Linked DNA regions of Homo sapiens: all the other regions are reported to be linked to region 3. Evidence: microRNA targets listed by miRTarBase, many of them from high-throughput screens and not tested one by one. Region 3 holds a microRNA gene; each other region holds the end of a gene's coding sequence.

Region 1 (7,099 bases), not on the chromosome of region 3:
CCAGGCCAGAGTGCAATGGCCCGATCTTGGCTCACTGCAACCTCTGCCTCCCAGGTTCAAGCAATTCTCATGCCTCATCCTCCTGAGTAGCTGGGATTACAGGCGCCCACCACCACGCCCAGGTAATTTTTTTTTTTTTTTTGGAGACAGAGTCTCACTGTGTCAGCCAGGCTGGAGTGCAGTGGCGCAATCTGGGTTCATTACAGCCTCTGTCTCCTGGGCTCAAGCAATTCTCCTGCCTCAGACTCCTGAGTAGCTGGGATTATTGGTGCATGCCACCACGCCCAGCTAATTTTCATATTTTTAGTAGAGACAGAGGTTTCACCATGTTGGCCAGGCTGGTCTTGAACTCCTGACCTCATGTAATCCACCTGTCTCAGTCTCCCAAAGTGCTGGGATTACAGGCGTAAGCCACCATGCCTGGCTGCTAATTTTTAAATTTTTAGTAGAGGTGGGGTTTTGCCATGTTGGCCAGGCTGGTCTCGAACTCCAGACCTCAAGTGATCAGCCTGCCTCAGCCTCCCAAAGTGCTGGGATTACAGGAGTGAGCCACCATGCCAGGCCAGTTTTAAGTTTTTTAATATATAGAAAGAATATAAATATACATCATGCATGTACATATATCTACTGTTGGCATTTTTAAAAAATCAAAAGTACATTTTCCACATGTTGAAAAAATTGAATCTACACAGAAATACATTAAGTGAGGCCGGCCGCGGTGACTCATGCCTGTAATCCCAGCACTTTGGGAGGCCCAGGCGGGCAGATCACGAGGTCAGGAGATCGAGACCATCCTCACTAACACGGTGAAACCCCGTCTCTACTAAAAATATAAAAAAATTAGCTGGGCGCAGTGGCGGGTGCCTGTAGTCCCAGCTACTCGGGAGGCTGAGGCAGAAGAATGGCGTGAACCCAGGAGACAGAGCTTGCAGTGAGCCAAGATGGTGCCACTGCACTCCAGCCTGGGCGACAGAGCAAGACTCCGTCCCAAGGAAAAAAAAAATACATTAAGTGAAAAGTAAAAACTTTCTGGGTGCAATGGCTCATGCCTGTAATCCCAGCACTTCGGGAGGCTGAGGCGGGCAGATCACTTGAGGCCAGGAGTTCAAGACCAGTCTGGCCAACATGGTGAAACCCCATCTCTACTAAAAATACAAAAATTAGCCGAGCGTGGTGCCACACACCTGTAATCCCAGCTCCCCAGGAGGCTGGGGCACGAGAATCACTTGAACCCAGGAGGTGGAGGCTGCAGTGAGCCGAGATTGCACCACTGCACTCTAGCCTGGGTGGTGGAGTAAGACTCTGTCTTAGAGAGACTCTGCCTCAAAAAAAAAAAAAAGTTGTTATCTCTGACTGGGCAAATATATATATATATATATATATATATATATATATATATATATATATATATATATATATATATACTTTGTTGGGAATGACTGTAGTTTTTACTTTTTTTTTTTTCTGAGTCAGAGTCCTGCTCTGTTGCCCAGGCTGGAGTGCAGTGGTGCGATCTCTGGTTACTGCAACCTCTGCCTCCCAGGTTCAAGCAATTCTTCTGCCTCAGCCTCCTGGGTAGCTGGGATTATAGGCGTGTGCCACCACGCCCAGGTAACTTTTGCATATATATTTTTTTGAGACAGGGTCTCATTCTGTTGCCTAGGCTGGAGTGCAGTGTGTGATTATGGATCACTACAATGTCAACCTCTTAGGCTCAAGCAATCCTTCTACCTCAGCTGTCTAAATAGCCAGGACAACAGGTGTGTGCCTGGCTAATTTTTATTTTTTTGTAGAGACGGAGTCTCACTGTTACCCAGGCTGGTCTCAAACTCCTGCACTCAAGTGATCCTCTGCCTTGGTCTCCCAAAGTGCTGGGATTACAAGTATGAGCCACCACACCCAGCTACTTGTGAATGTTTTCAGAAAATGTTTCTATCATAAACTGGGAAGTACATCTTCTTTTTTAAAAAACATGTAATCAGGCCGGGCGTGGTGGCTCACGCCTATAATTCCAGCACTTTGGGAGGCCAAGGCAGGCCGATTACTTGAGGTCAGGGGTTTGAGAACAGCCTGGCCAACATGGCGAAACCCCAACGTGGTGAAACTCCGACTCTACTGAAAATACAAAAATTAGCCAGGTGTGGTGGCGGGCACCTGTAATCCCAACTACTCAGGAGGCTGAGGCAGGAGAATTGCTTAGACCCAGGAGGCGGAGGTTGCAGCGAGCTGAGATCGTGCTACTGCACTCCAGCATGGGCAACAAGAGCGAAACTCCATCTCAATAAATAAATAAATAAATAAATAAATAAAAGCAATAGTCATGAACATTCTTGTGTATGTACCTTCTAGTGCTTTTCCAAGTATGTATATTTAAGATAAATTCCTATTTTTGCCAGTTCAATGGATATGTAAATTTAAATTTTGATAGATTTTATCAAACTGCCTTTGTAAACATGGCTGTATCAACCTAGACTCCTATTAAAATCATATATGTTCTTGTTTCTTCACATCCTTGCTAGCTCTGGATATAACCCGTGAAACCTTAAAAAAAGGCTTCTCCTATCCCATTTCAGACCACTTTTATCAGAATCTCCTAGGGTTAAGAACTAGGCATCAGTGCTTATTTATTTATTTAAATTAAGTTTTTTGGTAGAGATGGGGGTCTTGCCATGTTGCCCAGGCTGGTCTCGAACTCCTGAGCTCAAGCAATCCACCTGCCTTGCCCTCCCAAAGTGCTGGGATTACAGACATGAGCCAATGTGCCCAGCTCATTTTGTTTTGTTTTGAGACAGGGTTTTCCTCTCTCACCCAGGCTAGAATGCAGTGGTGGCATCACTTGACCTGAGCTCAACTGATCCTCCTGCTTCAGTCTCCTGAGTGGCTGAGACTACAGGCATGCACCACCACACCTAGCTAATTTTAATTTTTTTGGTAGAGACAGGGTTTTCCTATGTTGCCCAGGCTGGTCTCGAGCTCCTGGGCTCAAGCAATCCCCCTGCCTCGGCCTCCCAAGGTGCTGGGATTATAGGTGTGAACCACCATGCCAGGCTTGCATCAGTGTTTTTTTTTTTTTTTTTGTAGAGACGGAGTCTTGCTCTGTCACCCAGGCTGGAGTGCTGGAGTGCAGTGGTGCGATCTTGGCTCACTGCACCCTCCGCATCCTAAGTTCAAGCAATTCTCCTGCCTCAGCCTCCCGAGTAGCTGGGACTACAGGCGCACACTACCATGCCTGGCTAACTTCTTTTGTATTTTAGTAGAGACAGGGTTTCACCATGTTGCCTAGGCTGGTCTTGAACTCCTGAGCTCAGGCAATCCTCCTGCCTCAGCCTCCCAAAGTGCTAGGATTACAGGCGTGAGCCACCGCGCCCGGCTGCATCAGTTTTTTCAAAAGTTCATCAGGGTGAAAAGGATACGTAGCCCAGTCTTGTGAATCTTCTCATTCACTGGTTCAACAAATACTGCACTACCAACCACATAATTAGTACAAAGCCAGGCAACAAATACTTGAATTCTTGATAAAAAAAGAAAATAAAAACATGCTTCAATTTTTCTCCAGAGAATGAGGCAGGGGACAATAAAAACCAATCTATATCACCTAACCTAGTAGGCACTAAGAGGCTGATCTCATTTGCTTTGAGGACAAGGCTGCTTCTCACCCCTTCCGCATCTGTTTTCCTCTTGATGAGCCCCTAAAGAGATGCAGCAGAGTTGGGAGGTGGCTCAGGGAAGACAGCAGAGTGGAAAGGTCAAGCTCAAAGGTAAAGGGAGGGGATAGAAGCAGATTACCTGTCGACCGTCTTCTTAAGTCCCATGGCCTTTTGAAAACTCTGCAAGAAAAGGTAGTTCTGTTGATCTGCCTCAGTCTCCAGAACCTCTATTCTAATGAGAGACATAGACCTTTTTTTTTTTTGAGACAGAGTTTTGCTCTTGTTGCCCAGGCCAGAGTGCAGTGGCGTGATCTCGGCTCACCGCAATCTCCGCCTCCCGGGTTCAAGCGATTCTCCTGCCTCAGCCTCCGAGTAGCTGAGATTATAGGAATGCACCACCATGCCGGGCTAATTTTGTATTTTTAGTAGAGATGGGGTTTCTCCATGTTGGTCAGGCTAGTCTCGAACTCCTGACCTCAGGTGATCCGCCCACCTCAGCCTCCCAAAGTGATAGGATTACAGGCGTGAGTCACCGCACCCAGCCACATAGACCTTTTTGAGAAAGCAATTTCCTGGGGGGAAATAGGGAGAGGAAAGCTCTACTTTCAGAATGGATCAAAGAAAACACGCAGGGGTTGGATAGAACACATATTTGAATACCTACTGTGTACTAGACACAGCCTCCCACTCCTGTTACTAACTACATTATACCCTTGTTACATCAAAAGCCTTTCCCAGTAAAAGATGCACTTATAGTAAATTGATCTGGAAACTTCATCAAACTTCAACCCAGCCCCTCCTTCCAACTCTGCATACCTCTTCTACTTTTGTCATCTTTTCCACAGACATGTCTATAGATTTGCTTGATACAGTCTGAGGAGACTGACAGGCTCCTCTGTTTAGTTCAGTAACCAAGGTTTCAGTAGTCATAGTAACATTTACACCTCCAACAATAACCCTGGGCCTAGGAGTTGATTGGCCACCTGGCCTGTTGCCCCAGAAACCTTGAGAGAATCCTTGTTCTGCAGCCTTCTGTTGGTGACACAGGCATCTATGAGCAAGGGCCACAGTCCTGATTTTAGGATTTCTTGTGCTAGGGTCCCAAGGAGTATGTGTATGGTCGTAGGTCCAGGGTATGCACACAGTCCCACCAATTCTCTGGAGGCAAATCCTCATGCCCTATACCCTGTTAGAAATGTGCAGATAACATTATCAAATGCCTGTTTTATTAAAAGACAACTATAAAGGACTGATTCATACGTTTTATTTGATAATAGTTCATTTTATTAAATAATTTATAAAGTCAGACCAGTGCATTGGGCTTGTTAGGGGAAACCATTCCTTCCTACTGTCACATAGCCTGGCAGATTATATCAGGTGCCAAAACATTCCCTTTTATTCAATTTATTAATGAGAGTGTGGAATTAAAGTAGATCCTTGCATGTCAGGAAAGCTGCAACACATCTGGTTTAAGTGGAGCACAAAGGTAAGTTATTCCACATTCACCAACTTCCCCACTTGACCTCCCACCAGTTCCTGTCTGCTTTTTCCATCAATCAACTCTAAGATGCCCTAAACCCAAACAGTTCCCATTCAACTGTGCACAAAGGTATAGATATGGAAGACATCTCACTCCAACTCTCACCTTTGGAATTAAATAAACCTGGAACAGGGAAGGTGAACTATGGCTGAAACCAAGTGAAGATTTTTAAGAAGCTTTGACAGAAACATTAAGAATAACACCTGAATGCAAATCCAGAAAAAAGCGCTACTGGGGGAAAATAGTCTTAGCCAATGTTCTAAAAATGCTCATAAGGAAGGGTTGGGGAATTACCCTTTAGACACAAGCTCTAAGAACTCTGGATACAACGGGAACTTGGATGGATACAGTCTGGGCCTGCTGGGCCAGATGTTCCGAGGGCGGCCCGGCAAGCAGCCTGTCTTGCACATTGCAACTGACTGGCTTAATCTACGGCAAGAGTCCTTCAGCTCCGTCACAGAGTACTCTCCAATGTGTTATAGTTATCCTTAAAGCTCTTCAATTCAAGGAAGTGCTTGGCACGTTTACTCTTCTGACTGGAGGGGAGGTATGTCACCTGGATGGTTGTTGGGGAGACCTCAGGGGACTGAGTTAGGTCTTTGGCTGCTGACTGGTGATGTCGCTGAGAGCTCCCAATTCGTGCTTTAACCCTGAAGAACAGAGAGGGGAGGTCATTGACAGAATGAGGACTAATCAAAGAAATCAGGGCTTATCCCAGGCCATAAATGCAGCAATAGTCACAAATAGTTATTTGTGTCCTATCTGTCCTATTTTGTAAACTAGTTACTAAAACCCCATCTAGTAGCTTAGAAATACAAGAGGCTGAGCGCGGTGGCTCACGCCTGTAATCCCAGCACTTTGGGAGGCCCAGGCAGGTGGATTGTTTGAGGTCAGGAGTTCGAGACCAGCCTGGCCAACATGGTGAAACCCTGTCTCTACTAAAAATACAAAAATTAGCTGGGAGTGGTGGCGGGTGCCTGTAATCCCAGCTACTCGGGAGGCTGAGGCAAGAGAATCACTTGAACCCAGGAGGCAGAGGTTGCAAGCCAAGATTGCGCCACTGCACTTCAGCCTGGGTGACAGAGCAAGACTCCATCTCAAAAAAAAAAAAAGTAGCAGAGAGGCTGGGCATGGTCACTTATACCTGTAATCCCAGCACTTCAGGAGGCAGAGGCCAGAGATCGCTTGAGCCCAGGGGAGTTTGAGACCAGTCTGGGAAACAAAGTGAGACCCTATCTCTGCAAAAAATTAGCCAGGTATGGTGGCAAGCACCTGTAGTCCTGGTTCCTCAGGAGGCTGAGGCAGGAGGATCGCTTGAACCCAGAATTCGAGGCTGCAGTGAGCCATGAATGTGCCACTGCACTCCAGTCTGGGCGACAGACTGAGACCCTGTCTCTCTCTCTCACACACACCCTAAAAAAGTAGCAGCACTCCAGCCTGGGTGACAGAATAAAGGCCCTGTTTGGGTACCCTGACACACACCTACTCATACCAAAAACAACTAGCAGCAGAGAAACCAATTTCCCAGAGTTCTTGCCTCTGGCTCAAGCTTTTTTTTCAGAGACAGGTATCCCCAATATAGGTATCACCTTGTTTTGCAGATTAGGAAACTAAGGGTCCAATAATTAGCTTGTATGAGGTCACAAAACTAGTTAAGTGACAGACCTGGGATTCAAACCTAAGTTTGTCAGATTTCAAAGCCTATACTCTTCACTAAACCCAATGAACATTCCTAGAAACTACAAATCAAACATAATTTTTTGTTTTTGAGATGGAGTCTTTTTCTCTGTTGCTCAGGCTGGAGTGCAGTGGCACAATCTTGGCTCACTGCAACCTCTGCCTCCTAGGTTGAAGCGACCTGTCTCGGCCTCCCGAGTAGCTGGGGATTGCAGGTGCATACCACAATGCCCAG
Region 2 (7,099 bases), not on the chromosome of region 3:
CACAGGGTTACTGAGAGGGTAGAATAAGATGTGTACTGCAAAACGTCTGGCAGGATTGAGAGGTAATGCTTCTAGGACCGCTAAGTTGTTGACTGCAATCAAATCATTAGAGAATCAACTGAAATCTGATGTGGGCAGTTGCCAGGGGTTAGTAATGAAATCCCACTCCTCTTTTTTGGGGGGTGGTGGGGATCCTCCTTTTCCCAGTCAAAGCCATGCTGAAAAGCCAACTCCATACTCTTCATTGCTGCAATGCCTGATACGGTTTGGATATTTGTCCCTGTGAAAATGTCATGTTGAATTGTAATCTCCAATGTTGGAGATGGGGCCTGGTGGGAGCTATTTGGATCATGGAGGTGGATGCTTCGTGAATGGCTCTGGGTCATCCCCTTAGTGGTAAGTGAGATCTTGCCCTGAGTTCACACAAGATCTGGTAGAGATCTGGCCATTTGAAAGTATGCAGCACTTGGTTGGGCAGAACGGCTCATGCTTGTAATCCCAGCACTTTAGGAGGCCGAGACGGGCAGATCACTTGAGGTCAGGAGTTCGAGACCAGCCTGGCCAACATGGTAAAACCCTGTCTCTACTAAAAATACAAAAATTAGCTGGGTGTGGTGGTGGGTGCCTGTAATCCGCTACTAGGGAGACTGAGGCAAAAGAATCACTTGAACCAGGGAGGCAGAGGTTGCAGTGAGCTGAGATCATGCCACTGCACTCTAACCTGGGAAAAGAGTGAGACTCCATCTCAAAAAATTAAAAATTTAAAAAAGATGAGCAAATAAGAACCAGCAGACTGCTTATTCACAGTCATATAGCAAAAAAAACTTTGGCACTAGGAAGAGATCCTAGTCACAAGACTTCCACTTCTGTGCCCTTGGCTCTTTGACTTAGAGGTCCATTAGACTCTGAGCTGCTAGGGGATTGCCATTCATCCACCTACCTGTCCACTCATCCATCCATCCATTCACCCACCCACCCACCCATGCACCCATCTACCCACCCACCGATCCATCCATATTGGCATGCATATATATATGTATATAATATATTTTATATATATATATATATGTGTGTGTGTGTGTATATATGTGTGTGTGTGTGTGTGTGTGTGTGTGTGTGTATATATACATGTATATGAGGTTTTGTTGTTGCCCAGGCTAGTCTCCAGCTGGCCTCAGGTGATCTTCCTGCCTTGGCCTCCCAAAGTGCTAGTGCTGAGATTACAGGTATGAGCCACCACACCTGGCCCATGTTGGCTTTTGACAAATTTCTTGTGGAAGGCACTGTGCTGGTGCTGAGGAGCCAGGGGAGAACAAGACTGTCACACTCCCTGACTTCTTGGAGCTTTCCATTCAGTGAGCCAGAACTGAGCCTCAGTCATCTATTTCCCAAGGGTCTACCACAATGTCTGGCACATGGTAGGTGCCCAGTAAATGTTTGTTGAATGAATAATGGATTGCTCATCTTCCATAATGCCTACACATTTATAATTGACATACTGGGTCATTTGAAGACATTTGTGGAGCTAAAAATTCAGTATTTGTATTTGTCTTGAACCACTTTCTCTCATCATTATTCTTACCAGGAGACTTTGTGTGGTGGTGTGTAGGCAGAGCAACAACATTGGGCATGGAGTCCAAAGACCCAAGTTCATATCCCAGCTCTGAGCTGCTTACTCCTGAGTAGCTACTGAAAGACGTTTGAGCCTCTGTTTTTTCAACTTCAGGGAAATATTTGACTTGCCTGTTTCACTCATGTGCTGTGACTCCCTGGGGAGGAGAGGAGAAACTTCCAGAAAATATGACATGAATAAAAGGTTATTGAGATGTTACTTGGATGACTTCCTCAAATGACAAGTATGTTGATGACACAGGGGAAAATAAAAGCAGCCAGCTTTTCAGCACACTCATTCTGACCTTATATAATTTAACTGGTTGCAATTGCCCCAGATTTGTTCCAACCTTAGAAGAGATTAAATGTATGGATTTGTGGTATCACATGTCATCCCAGCCAATCCTGACCCATATTTCTGTCCATCTGGTTCATGCAACAACAGTACAAAGAGGTGTTATAACCTTAATTGCTTGCAAAGTCTTTTGAAATCCTTAGATTAAAACCTCGGTGAAGTCCGAAGTATTAGCATCCTGAATGCCCAAGAAGTCACGCTGAGCCTTGTCTGGGTTCACTGGAGCAGGCAACAAGGTCTGTTGTGAGGCCTGCTTCAGGAACTTTGGGGTTTAAAGTCCTATTCATGGGATGGCCAGAGACCAACCCCCAACTTCTGAGTTCCTAAGCTACCCAGGCATTTGGCCATTTCCCACGTTGCTTCTGAGATGACTTTTACATTTCTTAAGTTCCTGGGTCACAAGGCCTGAGTTGCTCTAACTTCAGTGTCTGCTTTCCTGGCCAATCCCAGCCTGAGTCCTAAAAAAGGGTAATTGTGTCATCACTAACTTCTGTCTGCCTCTTCGTATGAGTCCAGAGTTGATGAATTGGTCCTCATCCTAACTTATACAGGTTAGAATTAAAATCCCATCCCATGGTGGTTACGCTTAGAGCAGGCACCAGGCAAAAATTGAAAAGGGCAGGCAGAGGTTCCTGAGGCCCTCCCAGTGTTTTGCTTTCTAGATCTATTGGTTATGCCTGTGTGTTGTTTGTGAAAATTTACTGAGCTACACACTTATATGTGCATTTTTCTGTTGTTACATTTTACAATGTGAAGTATTTTTAAAAATCAATCTGGATACAAATTTACTTCATTTAGACTAGATTCTGAAGTGAAGCTATAAATAGTTAAGCTATAAACAATAAAAAACTCTTTTCCTTTCTCTACTTTTGTGATTCAAATTAATGTCACCTTAGTATTTTCCTTGCTTTTATTTCCATTTTCACACTTATGGAAAGAAAAAAGTAAAAGAAAGAAAATGCCTTGCTTGGCCGGGCGCAGTGGCTCACGCCTGTAATCCCAGCACTTTGGGAGGCCAAGGTGGGTGGATCATGAGGTTGGGAGTTCAAGACCAGCCTGGCCAATATGGTGAAACCCCGTTTCTACTAAAAATACAAAAATTAACCGGGCATGGTGTCGGGCGCCTGTAGTCCCAGCTACTCAGGAGGCTGAGGCAGGAGAATCACTTGAACCTGGGAGACAGAGGTTGCAGTGAGCCGAGATTGCGCCACTGCACTCCAGCCTGGGCGACAGAGCAAGACTCCGTCTCAAAAAATAAGAGAAGAAAAAAAAGAAAATGGTTTGCTTAGCCATTTTAATTAAGTCTAATGAAGAGGGATTGGTTCACAATCGGAAGTCCCATGATGCCTTCAGAGATCTGTGTGAACCTCTGCAATGATAACAAAATTTTGTTTTATACATGTGACACTGTTCTCAGGAGTGGTCATAGCTTTATCAAATTCTCAAGGGTCCACGGCCCAAAAAAGACAAGCTGATTTTTACAACTCAAGGTTAATTTATGAATGCTCACCTTCAAACGTTTCTTGATTCTGATTCTGCTATGAAAGAGTATAAAAAATAAAAAATGTTTCCCGAGTCTAAATTCAACCCAAAGCACGTATCAACACCCAATGGGCTTCATCCATCAAAATAAATTTGCCCACTGAAATGAGAAAAGCAAATGGGTTCAAGTCTGCCAAAGGTCATCGATGATCCTCATCATCTCTACTTTTCCACCTTCCCCTTGCTGCTCACCCCCAACTAGACTGTAAGTCCTGAGGCCAGAGACCTTTGCAACCTCTGCATGAAATTGCAAAAGGCAAAGCAGATGGAACTCGAAAGAAATTCACCACACCTATTTACGAAACCAGGTTTATTAAAATTTCTCTACAAGTCAGAAACGGCCATCTCACTGTTCACATATATACACGTATGTACAGGAAGAACCTAGTGTTTCTAGCTTTCCCGGCAGAAGGCCCTGCCAGCCCAGAGTCCTTAGTCGGATAATGTATCACAGATACAACAGTCGAGCAACCACGAGAGCGTTAGTGCGACAGAGGCCTCTGTCCTCCCTCTTCTCAAAGTCCCATGATTCTGTCAAGGTAATATTGCCAATAATCATTCACATTTCACGTGGTTTTAGACACGCAGGTTATTCAGACAGACACAGACAACAAAACAAGCCTCAAAGCCAGAACAAAACAAAACAAAACAAAATCGAACATAGGTATAAAAGGTAAAATATATGTACAAAGTACACAGTACGTGAGGTATACACGGCATTCTCACAATGCATGTTAGTAGTTTGCCTAGGCATAGCCCTTAAAGATGACTGCCTGTTTTTGTGCCATTTCTCAAAATACAGTATATTTTGTTTACCCGTTTAACCACCTGATTTCAGCACTGTCCAAGACAGTTACTGATATTTCATCTGAATTTGTTTTTTAATGAAAGTTGCAATTTCTCCATTAAGCTCCATCTTTTGTAGGGGAGTGAGTTTCCATCTCTGGACATATCTAACAGAGGCTGGATTCCCACCTACAAAAGAAGCTGAAGAGGGGATTTCTGCCTTGGGAGGTGGCAGAAAGAGGAAAGAGATTGGACCGGATGATTTTTAAAGTTCCTTCCAACTTTGAAGATTTGGGGTTTGCTGTTTCACTCCAGAAGCCGATTATACAGACGTATTCATAAACCACACATTTGAAATATTAACAACCCACCATGCAAAACTGCAGATGTACACACAATGCCAAAGGCGGACCATATCTGGGAGGGGTTAAAGTATAATTCTGGAAGTTAGTCTGAGAATCACAAGACTATCCAAAATTCACTCTCTTCAAAGCACAAAGATGTTTAATGTCTGCTCTTGGGAGAGGTGGGTGGGAGCCTCCTTATCTTTCTTCTCTTAGACAGAATGCTCCACCCTGAGATGGTCTTGGGGAAAAAGTAAAGGGTAGGTACTAACATATTTGGAAGGAACTTAAAAAGCTAATAGTTTCCAAGCACTCAAATTATTTTTTAAAATCTGGAGTCTCTCTGAGCTCAGAGTTCTGAAATCGTTGGGAGATGGAATCTTTTGTGATACTGTTCCACGTTCGGCTGGTAAGTGCTTTTATAGCTAAAGGGGGAAGTGTCAAGGTCAGGGAGAAGGCATTAGTGCAGATGAGGTCTTGGCAGGAAACAGAGAAGAGTCTCGGTTCATGGTTCCATCAGGCTCCTGAGCAACTTAAAACAGTCTGCTCCAAAAACGGAGCAGAGTCATTGGTAAATGTGAGTGTGAAGAAAGGGTGAGTGTTAAGCCAAAAAAGGAACTTTCCCATCAGAGAAGCTGCCGTAGCAGTCTAGCCACCAAAGATGAGTTCAAAGATGGCAGATTTATTGGCCCAATTTGTCACCCTGTGAAAAATACGGTTATTACTCAAAATATGTCATTGTGCGATTTGCTTTTTCTCCCATTCGAATGCTCAAGTTTATTACACACTTGACCACCGGGTGTAAGATGTCCATACTCTGCCCTCCACAAAAGATGCGGAACTCCCAAATCCAGCAGAGATAGTTGGTGAGGGTTCCTTAAGGGAAACAAATTTGCAGGGCAGCCAATCACAGCATATGCTGCTCAAATCAATAAAGTCACTCATCCCAACAGAGAAGAGGAGGCGCCATGCCGAGTTCAGCAGCTTTCATCCTGATGCAGTCATTATCTGGTTGGTACCACGCCAAAGGGCCTGTCCATCTTTAGAAATGGAAATGCCAGGTGTTAAGAATTATGAGGTTTCTGAGGTTTTGGGGATTAGCAGAAGAAGGAACTAATGTCACTGTCCTCCTGGTACTCTGGAACAATCTGGTCTGAAGTTCCTATTTCTGAGTCGATGTACCCGGGTTCCAAGACGGACTCAAACCAGGGGTGCAGTAGGATCTCGGGGGCAGTGAGTCTCTCGGAGGGCTCCCGTCTCAAGAGGCTGCGAATGAGGCACCTGGCTTTGGGGGAAATGTGCTCAGGAATGCAGAACTGTCCACGCCGAATTTTGGAGAAAAGGGCACTGGGGTCTGAGTCATGGAAGGGGTATCGTCCAACCAGAAGGGTGTAGAGCATCACCCCCAGGCTCCAAACGTCCGCAGCCTTTCCGGAGTAGGTCCCAGTGGTGTTGAGGATCTCAGGGCTCACGTAGGCTGGGCAGCCATGTTTGTCTGACAAAGCATCATCTTCCCCCTTCATTATGTGTGTGTCTTCTAGACTTTCTAGTCTAAGCTGGGTTCTGCAAGAGAGAGGAACCAAGCCATTATTTCCACACCAGCTGCTATGAAAAACAAAGCCTTCCCAATAACAGCGCCCACAGGCACTAACAGCAAAGGCTCCAGGAATGCTATTTACCCCTTCGTCCAGTAAGCAGTGCCCTGCAACTACCGAGGGCTCCTGATTTCACAAACTAACACGAACTGCAATAAATGTTTGCAAAGTATCGGCAGAGCGCCTGGGGTGGAGGGTATGAGGCAAAGCCCCAAATAGTATTCATAATGCTGGAGCTTACAAGAGATATCCTAATAGGAGTTACGCAATTTACTAAGTTCCCATTGCAGAACTGGGAGCCTGTCTCAGAATGCTGCATTCTCTACAAAAGCTAGCAGGGAAGAGCAGCATATCCTACTTCTTCAGAGAGGGCCTGAGCATCCTACGAACCCATCTTCCCTCTTATGACTGCCAGGGCTACCTGGACCCACACTGCATTACAGAACACGGAGCCCAAAGTCACTGCTATTACACACAGGTCATCAGCGCTGGTGCCCACACTGATACATGCACACAGAGCAAACTTTGTCCTCCTGGGCCCAGGCTGCAACAATTAGGATGGGAAAGTTGCAAGGAATGTTAATTACATTTATTGGGGTGTTTAACTGCAAAGAACACTTTGCCTGGACAGAGAGGTTATGCGAGCAAACAAAAGTGGCTGATGGATTTCAGGGACGCAGGGACCCTGAAATTCTTACACAGGGACACACACTCCCCCTGGGATGGCACATCAACATGTGAGCATATGTATTCTACAGGGGGGGTCTCTGTTCAGGTAACAACGAAAGTCTAAAACACCTTCAGTCAAAGGCTCTCTTATGAAGCTGCAGGTGCCTCCTTATTCAGAACCAGCCACCCAAGTCTCC
Region 3 (7,118 bases):
GCTACAGGGCGCATGCATTTTGACCATATACTGTGGAGAAGGTCAAAGGCGTTATTTAAAAAAGAAAATCTATCTTTAGGGCTTTTAAATTCAAGGCTGGGCATCAGGGAACAGAGGAATACCTATTTGCCAAATGGAAGTAGTTGAAATCAGGATGGAAGGAAAATAATTTTATTTTTATGGTCTTAAGAGGGCTTTATAAACAATGAAGGTTTTAATTAAAACAAAAAACCATTCAATAAACGTGTTTGGGGATATCCGCCTAAGAGTTATGTGACCCAGGGGACGTGGTCTGTGGGTTAGATATGAGTTTAACTAGGTATGTTTTAGAGTCATTGATAGACTCTGATTATCAAGAAAGGAAACATCCTGCCAAGCCCGTCCTTTCCTTACTTCCCTATCTCCATTGTCCCTAAGGAGGGGGGCCGGAGAGCCAGGGATGAAGTAGGCAGGTACTGGAAAATTACTATTTTTGTTGCCAAGTATATTATATACAAAAATAGGTTAACCTTTTCTGGGAGGGCATGGCCCTGACACATTTCCTTCTGGTATTCTAGAAATGTGTCTTTCCTCTTCTTCTGGCAGCCTTCAGCAACTTAAGTTTTGAGGATTTGGGCTTCTAGAAAACTCTCTTCTGAGATTAAAACCTGGTGGTGTCACCTGCTATTACATGTCAACTCTAACCCTATTTTTATTCCAGTACTCTCTGGGAAACTGTGGTGAAGATATTTTGGCCAGGCAGAATCACTTTATTGGCAATTTTTTTTAATGTGTAAATTTACTCCTATATCCCTGGGTCCGTGTAATTAGCAGCATTGATGCACATTATTGTGAGGGCCCTGGACAGTTTGAGCAAAGTTTGAACTTGAAGTGAGGGCGGAAGTAAGTTCCAGAGGCCCTGCCTCTGCCCTCTGTTTTGTTCACCTCAGGGCAGCCTCTGCAAGTGGAAAACAGGCAGCAACGAAGGCTGGGAGATAGTCCCGCCATTGGTCCGCGCTGCAGCTTGTTCTGGCAGCGAGTTTAGTTCAGGAAATTTGCTGAGAATTTGTTTTCACAGCAAGCCTCATATTTTTGTTGCAAATTGTGTGGCGTAAGCTTACCAAATGTTTCCTCTGACAGGACAAGAAAAGACCTGCAGCACCTTGTAGTGAGAGGCTTTGAGGGCCTGGCAAGTCTGAAATGTGCTGTGTTCTGGGTTATGTGTGTGTCCACCCTGGGATTGGGGTCATGGAAAGCGCCTAAGGGAGGCCTCAGTGTCCACCTGGACACTGGAAACATGGACTTCTGGAAAAGCTCCAGAGCAGGGGCTTTTTTCTGTTACCTTTTTTGGTCAGAAAAGATACTCTTTTTTTCTCCAGTAGTTTTGTTAACGTGAAAATTTAGGCTGGTAAAGCAAAACAATATTATAAGAATATCTAAAATTTAACATGCACGTAAAATTAGATTTCATGGAACATTAGCCCTAGAGACTTTAGACAAATGGTTCCGTACTGGGGGGATGGTTTTGCCCCCCAGGGGACATGTGGCAATGTCTGGAGACATTTTTAGTTGTCACAACTGGTGGTGCGGGCAGCGGTGCTACTGGCATTAGTGGGTAGAGGCCAGGATGCTTTGAAACAGCCTTCAGTGATGCACAGGCCAGCCCACGACGAAAAATTATCTGGCCCAAAGTGTTGGTAGTGCCAAGGCCAAGAAACCCTGCTTTGGTTCCTGGGTGTAGGGACGTGTATGTTCTTAAACAAGAGCCCCTCCCGCCTGCATTGTGGTGGATGATGGCTGCCTTTTCATTGAGTGCGGGCTGTGTGCCAAGCGAGTTACCTCCATGCTTTTCTTTAATCCTTACAACTTTTGAGGTACGTGTGGTTTTTTTTTTCTTACTTTTTCACCTCTCCCCAAGTTGTCTGCAGATGTGTGTTTTTATCTTCATTTTACAGATGAGGAACCCGAAGCGTAGAGGGTTAAGTAATTTGCTTGAGGGGACCCAGAGTGGGAGATGATGGGCTCGGATTCAGGCCCAAGGCCATCCCCCTCCCAGTGCCTGCTCAACTCCACAGCATGTGCTGAGTCCACACACCAGGATTCAAATCCCTGCTCCACTTCCCAGCTGTGCAACCTGAGCAAGTTACTTCACTGCCTCCTGCCTCAGTTTCCACACCTGAAAACTGGGGACAGGAAGGGCTGTGTGGAGCAGGCCAAATTTTGCGATGAAGCATCTGGGTCTGTGGGTTGCACAGCGGACAGCGCAGGGCCATTTCTTTGCCCTCATACGGAGCAGGGCAACGAGCAGCACATCCCGCTTTGATGCCGAGGGTGAGGAGAGGGCAGGAGACCACTGACAGCGTGCTGGGCACAGAGTCTGGCACACAGTGCTCAGTCCCCGCAAGCGGTCACTTCTGTTACCTGTTTGATCTGCTCTTCAGGAGCTGGGTCTCCACCTTTTTCAGGAACACACTGTGTGAAAAGCAAGCCATGCTTGTGTCGGGAAAGCCCAGTGGGTCCAATCTATGTCATCAAGTTTTAGACTTCAGTCCCTCTCTCTTTTTGTCTTCCCCTTTTGCAGACACCTTGGAAGAGCTTAAGGAAATAGATAAAGGCATGTGGAAGAAACTGCAGGAGAAGTTTGCCCCCAAGGGTCCTGAGGAGGATCATAAGGCCTGAGCTCAGGCCTTACCTCGTGCACATACCTAGGTGTGGAGTCTTGTACATTGCCATCGTCAATAAAACTGCCCCAGTTTCCCCTTGACCTTACGGTTTGGGAATCTCCTCTAGCTTTCCCAGAAAGGAAGCCCTTGCTGCTCTAAAGAAAGTTTCAGCCTGAGAAGGGATGGTGATTGAGCTATCTGCTGTGACTGCTGCTCAGGGTAGGGAAATCTCCTGGGGAGAGGAAATGCAGGTTTCCCTCTGGGCCTGATGAGGGTAATGGGGCCTCGGCACAAGGTGCTTCCTGCATTGCCACGGGAGCCCCCGCCCCTCTGGCACGGGTCTGGTGTCTCCTGGCAAGATACTCAGGCTCCCTTTTGTTGTAGGAGCTCCTGGGAGGAAGCCAAAAATAGCAGTAAATACTGAAAAGGGCATCCTGTTGCAAACAGAAAGCAGTAGGGAGGTGTGAGGCCGAGAGAGGCAAAAAGCCTGCTTGGCCCTCATCCCCACTGACTCAGAGAAGGATGGACCTTAGGCCTCTATCCCTGACCTTGCAAAAACCCACATTGCCCAGTTGGCTTAAGGGACAGGGAAGCTATAGACAGGCCTTGGCCAAGCGGGGCCTCAGCTGCAGTTGGCTTCAGCACTGTGGGCAGGTTCTGTAGGTGGCCACAAGTCAGAGGCCCTGCTGGCTGAGGACACACACAGGGTCACCTCATTATTCCATGGAACCTTGGCTCTTACTGATATTGAGCATCCTTCTCTCTGGAACCGTGAGGGACAGGGCTGGGCCCACAGCGGCCCTGGTGGGTACAAAGTGGAAGTGGGTTCTTAACCTCGTCTGTGTCTAGACTCCTCAGGATGTTCTGAAATGCATAAAATAAAATCGACAGGACTGCCGTAGAAACCAGTTATGCCGAAATGCAGTTCTGGGTAGGCAAATCTCAGGGGAGGACCCTTGAGACAGGATGTCACTCAGCGTATCTCCTGAGAGCCTGAGAGGCCAGGCCAGCAGGGAGGGGCTCTTGTTCCTGTCTTCTGCCAGTGTGTCCTGTTAATCCCCACAGCCCCCGGGGGAGTGCAGGAAACACATCCCTTTTTAACGGACTAGATTTCTATTAATTTATTTAAGGCAATTAACATATTAGTTCTCAGGCCAAAGGATTTGTAAAACATTACACCAAAAGGAGAAAAACAAGCGGTCATGAAACAGCCACGCAAGCGCAGCTCAGCCCTTGTTGCCTGGGCGTACAACTCTTCCCCAGGAAGCCTGGGAAGAGGCAGGTCCTGGGAGCAAGATCGTCCATCATGGAGTCACCAGGCCACCTGGAGCCATGCCGGGGGTGGCATGGACACGACAGTGAGGTCTGCACTGGCTACAGCAGATCTGAGGCACGGAGGGAGCTGCACAGCCATGGGCAGGGCTGAGCACAGCACCCTTGAAATAAGTTAAATAACAAAGCCCTAAAATCACTAGTAACAGCATAACTGCCACCTCCCCCAGAGGCCGGCAGCCGCCAAAATGTAGTGCTTGGAGTTAAAGGGGTGACCCCACTCTTAACTACCCACAAGGAGGACTACAAAGAGTTGTCAGTTATTGCTTTAAGGAACAAAGGTCTCTAGGTAGGATTTATCTTCTGCTAAGGCATTAAGGTAAACTGAGTCCCAGTGAACTTTCAAGTCTTTTTAAGGGCTCTAAGCAGGACTGTCAGCTCTGAGGCTCCCCCTCCATGCTCTTCAAAGCCTGGGTGGGTGTCAGGGTGTCTGGCAGAGTGGGAGTGGAGGCTGGCCAGCTGGCTGGGCCACCCAACCCGAGGGAGGGGGCAGTGTTCTTCCCAGTCGCAGTCTCCAGTGATGAGCATCCCCTGTTGGGGCCTTCGGTGGCTCTCCTCAGCGGCTAATGCAGTTCTGGACATCCACAAAGCCTAGGCGTTGCCTGCGTTTCCGCTGCTCCGTCATCTAGGGTTAAGCAGATGCCAACAGGCCTGGTCAGGCCGCCTGGCACCTTCCCTCCATGGGTGCTGTGGAAGAGCTTGGCACCCGTCTTCCCCTGTGGGCCCAGCTGCTATTCGGCACTGGCGGCGGGCCAGGGCCCCTCGGGGTGCTTTAAGGATGTCGATGTCAGCACCAAACCCTTGTTCTCAATTAGCGTGTCACAAACCCTGGATTTGATGCAGCTGGGAAACCAGCCCACTAACAGAGGCTGCCTCATCTTCATGCAGGCACTGCCAGATGCAGAAGAGGATGTCTAGGCAAGAGGGCCTTAAACTCCCCCATCTCCAGTGATGGGGATCCCCTCAAAGGACCTACCTGGCAGCTGTCAGAGGAAGGGGATGAGAGACAGAGGGCCCCACCACCCTGTACTAAAGTTTCCACTTGGCCTTGTCTTTAGCGGCCCAAGGCAGGGGTTGTCAACCCCAGTCTGACTTGCCATGCAGGGGAGAGTGGGTTTGGCACCTGCCTTCTCATCCAGGCCCAGGGCCAGAGGCCAGTGGGGAAGAGGGTGGGTCAGGAAGGATGAAGGCAGGCAGGGACTGCCCAGGGATAGAACCCAGGGTGGGCCTGGGATCAGGCGGGGTGCACACCTGCTCCTTGAGCTCGTTGAGCTGGGCAGTGAGGTGGGACACCAGCTTCATGGTGGAGTTGAGCTTGTCCTGGAGAATCCGAATCTCATTCTGCTCCCCCTCGCCCTCATTGCTGACAAGGGACATGGCCCGCATCCGGGGGAACCAGTCCAGGTTCTTGTTCTGAAAAACATCACCAGTGGGTTAAGCAGGCGTGGGCCCGGCCTAGAAAGGCCTCATTTAGAAAAACAGTAATGTGGGGGGAGGCTTCTGCCACACCCTTAACAAAACTACTCGTCAGGGATGTGTCATGGGAAAATCTGAATTGACCTGGTCCTCCCCGGGGCCAGAGTGAGCTGGCAGTCAACCCTCTTGTCAACCCTCTGCCACCGAGACAGGCTGACTTCCGTTAGGCAGCGTCGGCAGCTGAGTTTGAGTCCTTTGCTGGTATCAGCACCATCTGTTTACTCTCATAACACCCCCTGAGAGGTGGAGGAAGGCCTCTGCACCCAGACAGACCCTGGATCTCCTTCCTTCCTTCCTCCCGCCCGCCTGCCTGACAAGCACGCCCCACGCCCCGGGAAGACGCGAGTCAGACAGATGGCAAATTGAGGGATCAGGAGGCTCCGCTGAGGAGAGCTGGCATCTGACACGTGTCTGGGAGGCAAAGCCACGTTTCCCAGGACAGAGGAGTCGGGGGGGGAGGGGGCACCAAGCAATTCTCAGCTTCCTTGTAGTAAGCTGTGAATTCTCAGACCAACAGATAAACCTGTACACAAAGATCAGTTTGAAATACAGACTAAACGATAAATAATTCCTTCTTTATGATTCATTGCCTTCACTCCATTATTACAGAAATTGGACAGATGACATTTGATTTCTGTAAGTGATTTTTAAAGTTTTTCCAGGCTCCCCTTCAGCCCAGGATCATCTAATTCAGACTTTTTAGGAAGCAGCCTGCCTTCCCACCGAGCTAGAAAACACTCCCTGAGAGCGGCCCACAGATCACTGGCCACGGGCAGGGTCTCCCCAACTCCACCCCTCCTCAGCATCACTGCACGACAGGCCCAGGGATACCACACGTGTTCTTCGGGGCGCATGGGTTTGCTGTGGGATTTTTCCTGACACCCAGAAGTGTGAGGAGGCCCCTCTGCAGCAGCGGCTTCCGTGCAGCCCAGAGCTGCTTCCAGCTGCTGCTCCTCGCCCTGCTGACCTTTCAACAAGTGTCTGCAGCTGTCCGAGCCCCTCTGCCTGGCCTCCTAGGGCCAACAGTCAGATAGGGCCACTCCTCTCCAGGGCCCAGGGTACTCAGAAGCTAAAACCATGAGGCCTCTGGTGCACAGTGATGACTCTAGAATGGCTGGTTTGGGCCCACAGGCCTGGCACAGCCCCTGCTCACACCTTGATCATCTGGGCCACGTAGCTCTCAGGGCCCGTGTAGTCGGTCTTGTTCTTCACGCGGACCAGCACAATGAAGTACAAGTAGTTCCACATGTTGTGCTCCAGCTTGATGTGTTCCTCAAATGACACTGTCTTGTTATCAAACTTGTCCCTCTCCAGACCTGAGGGTGCAGAGGGCGGGAATGAAACCATCAGCCTTCAAGAGCCACTGCAGGGTCACCTGCTGGAGGGGACCCAGCTTCCGGGGGTTGGAGGCATTTGTTCTCGGGATGAGCGCTTCCAACAGCTCGCTCTGGGCTATTTGGGTCACTTCTATTTAAAGCAGCAGCCACTTAGTGGAGATCCTGCCCTGCCGCAGCTGCAGCCCTCCCGCAGCAGCAACCGAGGACTCCAGGAGTAAACGCGAGAATTTCTCGAACTCAGGGGAAGCCCGAATGGCTGAATGAGCGAGGTCCTACAGGCCATACAGGTGACACCTGCCTGAGCCCGAGGTGGCTGGTGAGGGGACTAGCA

What was found. The annotated mature microRNA hsa-miR-3934-5p reads UCAGGUGUGGAAACUGAGGCAG and lies in region 3 at 2,138-2,159, opposite strand. An mRNA with a match to its seed (bases 2 to 7 or 8) in the 3' UTR can be bound and repressed. Matches are read on the target gene's strand: a 7mer-m8 pairs with bases 2 to 8, a 7mer-A1 pairs with bases 2 to 7 and ends in A, and an 8mer does both.
Region 1: miRTarBase lists LTAP1 as a target of hsa-miR-3934-5p. Seed matches in the 3' UTR shown: 7mer-A1 at 5,021-5,027.
Region 2: miRTarBase lists TRIB1 as a target of hsa-miR-3934-5p. Seed matches in the 3' UTR shown: 7mer-m8 at 5,697-5,703.

The regions. Positions count from the first base shown.
Region 1 is chr1:154,201,812-154,208,910 of GRCh38, forward strand. It overlaps LTAP1 (lipid transport auxiliary protein 1), which reads right to left. Exons shown (of 7, transcript NM_001098616.3): 7 at 4,909-5,837. The coding sequence ends at 5,642. It overlaps CFAP141 (cilia and flagella associated protein 141), which reads right to left and starts at 4,522. Exons shown (of 4, transcript NM_001010979.3): 1 at 4,464-4,522; 2 at 3,787-3,827. The coding sequence starts at 4,496.
Region 2 is chr8:125,435,108-125,442,206 of GRCh38, reverse strand. It overlaps TRIB1 (tribbles pseudokinase 1), which reads right to left. Exons shown (of 3, transcript NM_025195.4): 3 at 3,804-6,201. The coding sequence ends at 5,736. Among named protein-coding and RNA genes, the nearest start is that of TRIB1, 8.3 kb to the right of the region's middle.
Region 3 is chr6:33,693,193-33,700,310 of GRCh38, reverse strand. MIR3934 (microRNA 3934) reads right to left here and starts at 2,183; the gene lies at 2,077-2,183. ITPR3 (inositol 1,4,5-trisphosphate receptor type 3) reads right to left here. Exons shown (of 58, transcript NM_002224.4): 56 at 6,606-6,766; 57 at 5,226-5,387; 58 at 3,749-4,599. The coding sequence ends at 4,531. It overlaps UQCC2 (ubiquinol-cytochrome c reductase complex assembly factor 2), which reads left to right. Exons shown (of 4, transcript NM_032340.4): 4 at 2,561-3,547. The coding sequence ends at 2,658. RefSeq lists enhancers at 1,780-2,755, 4,652-5,851, 6,664-7,118.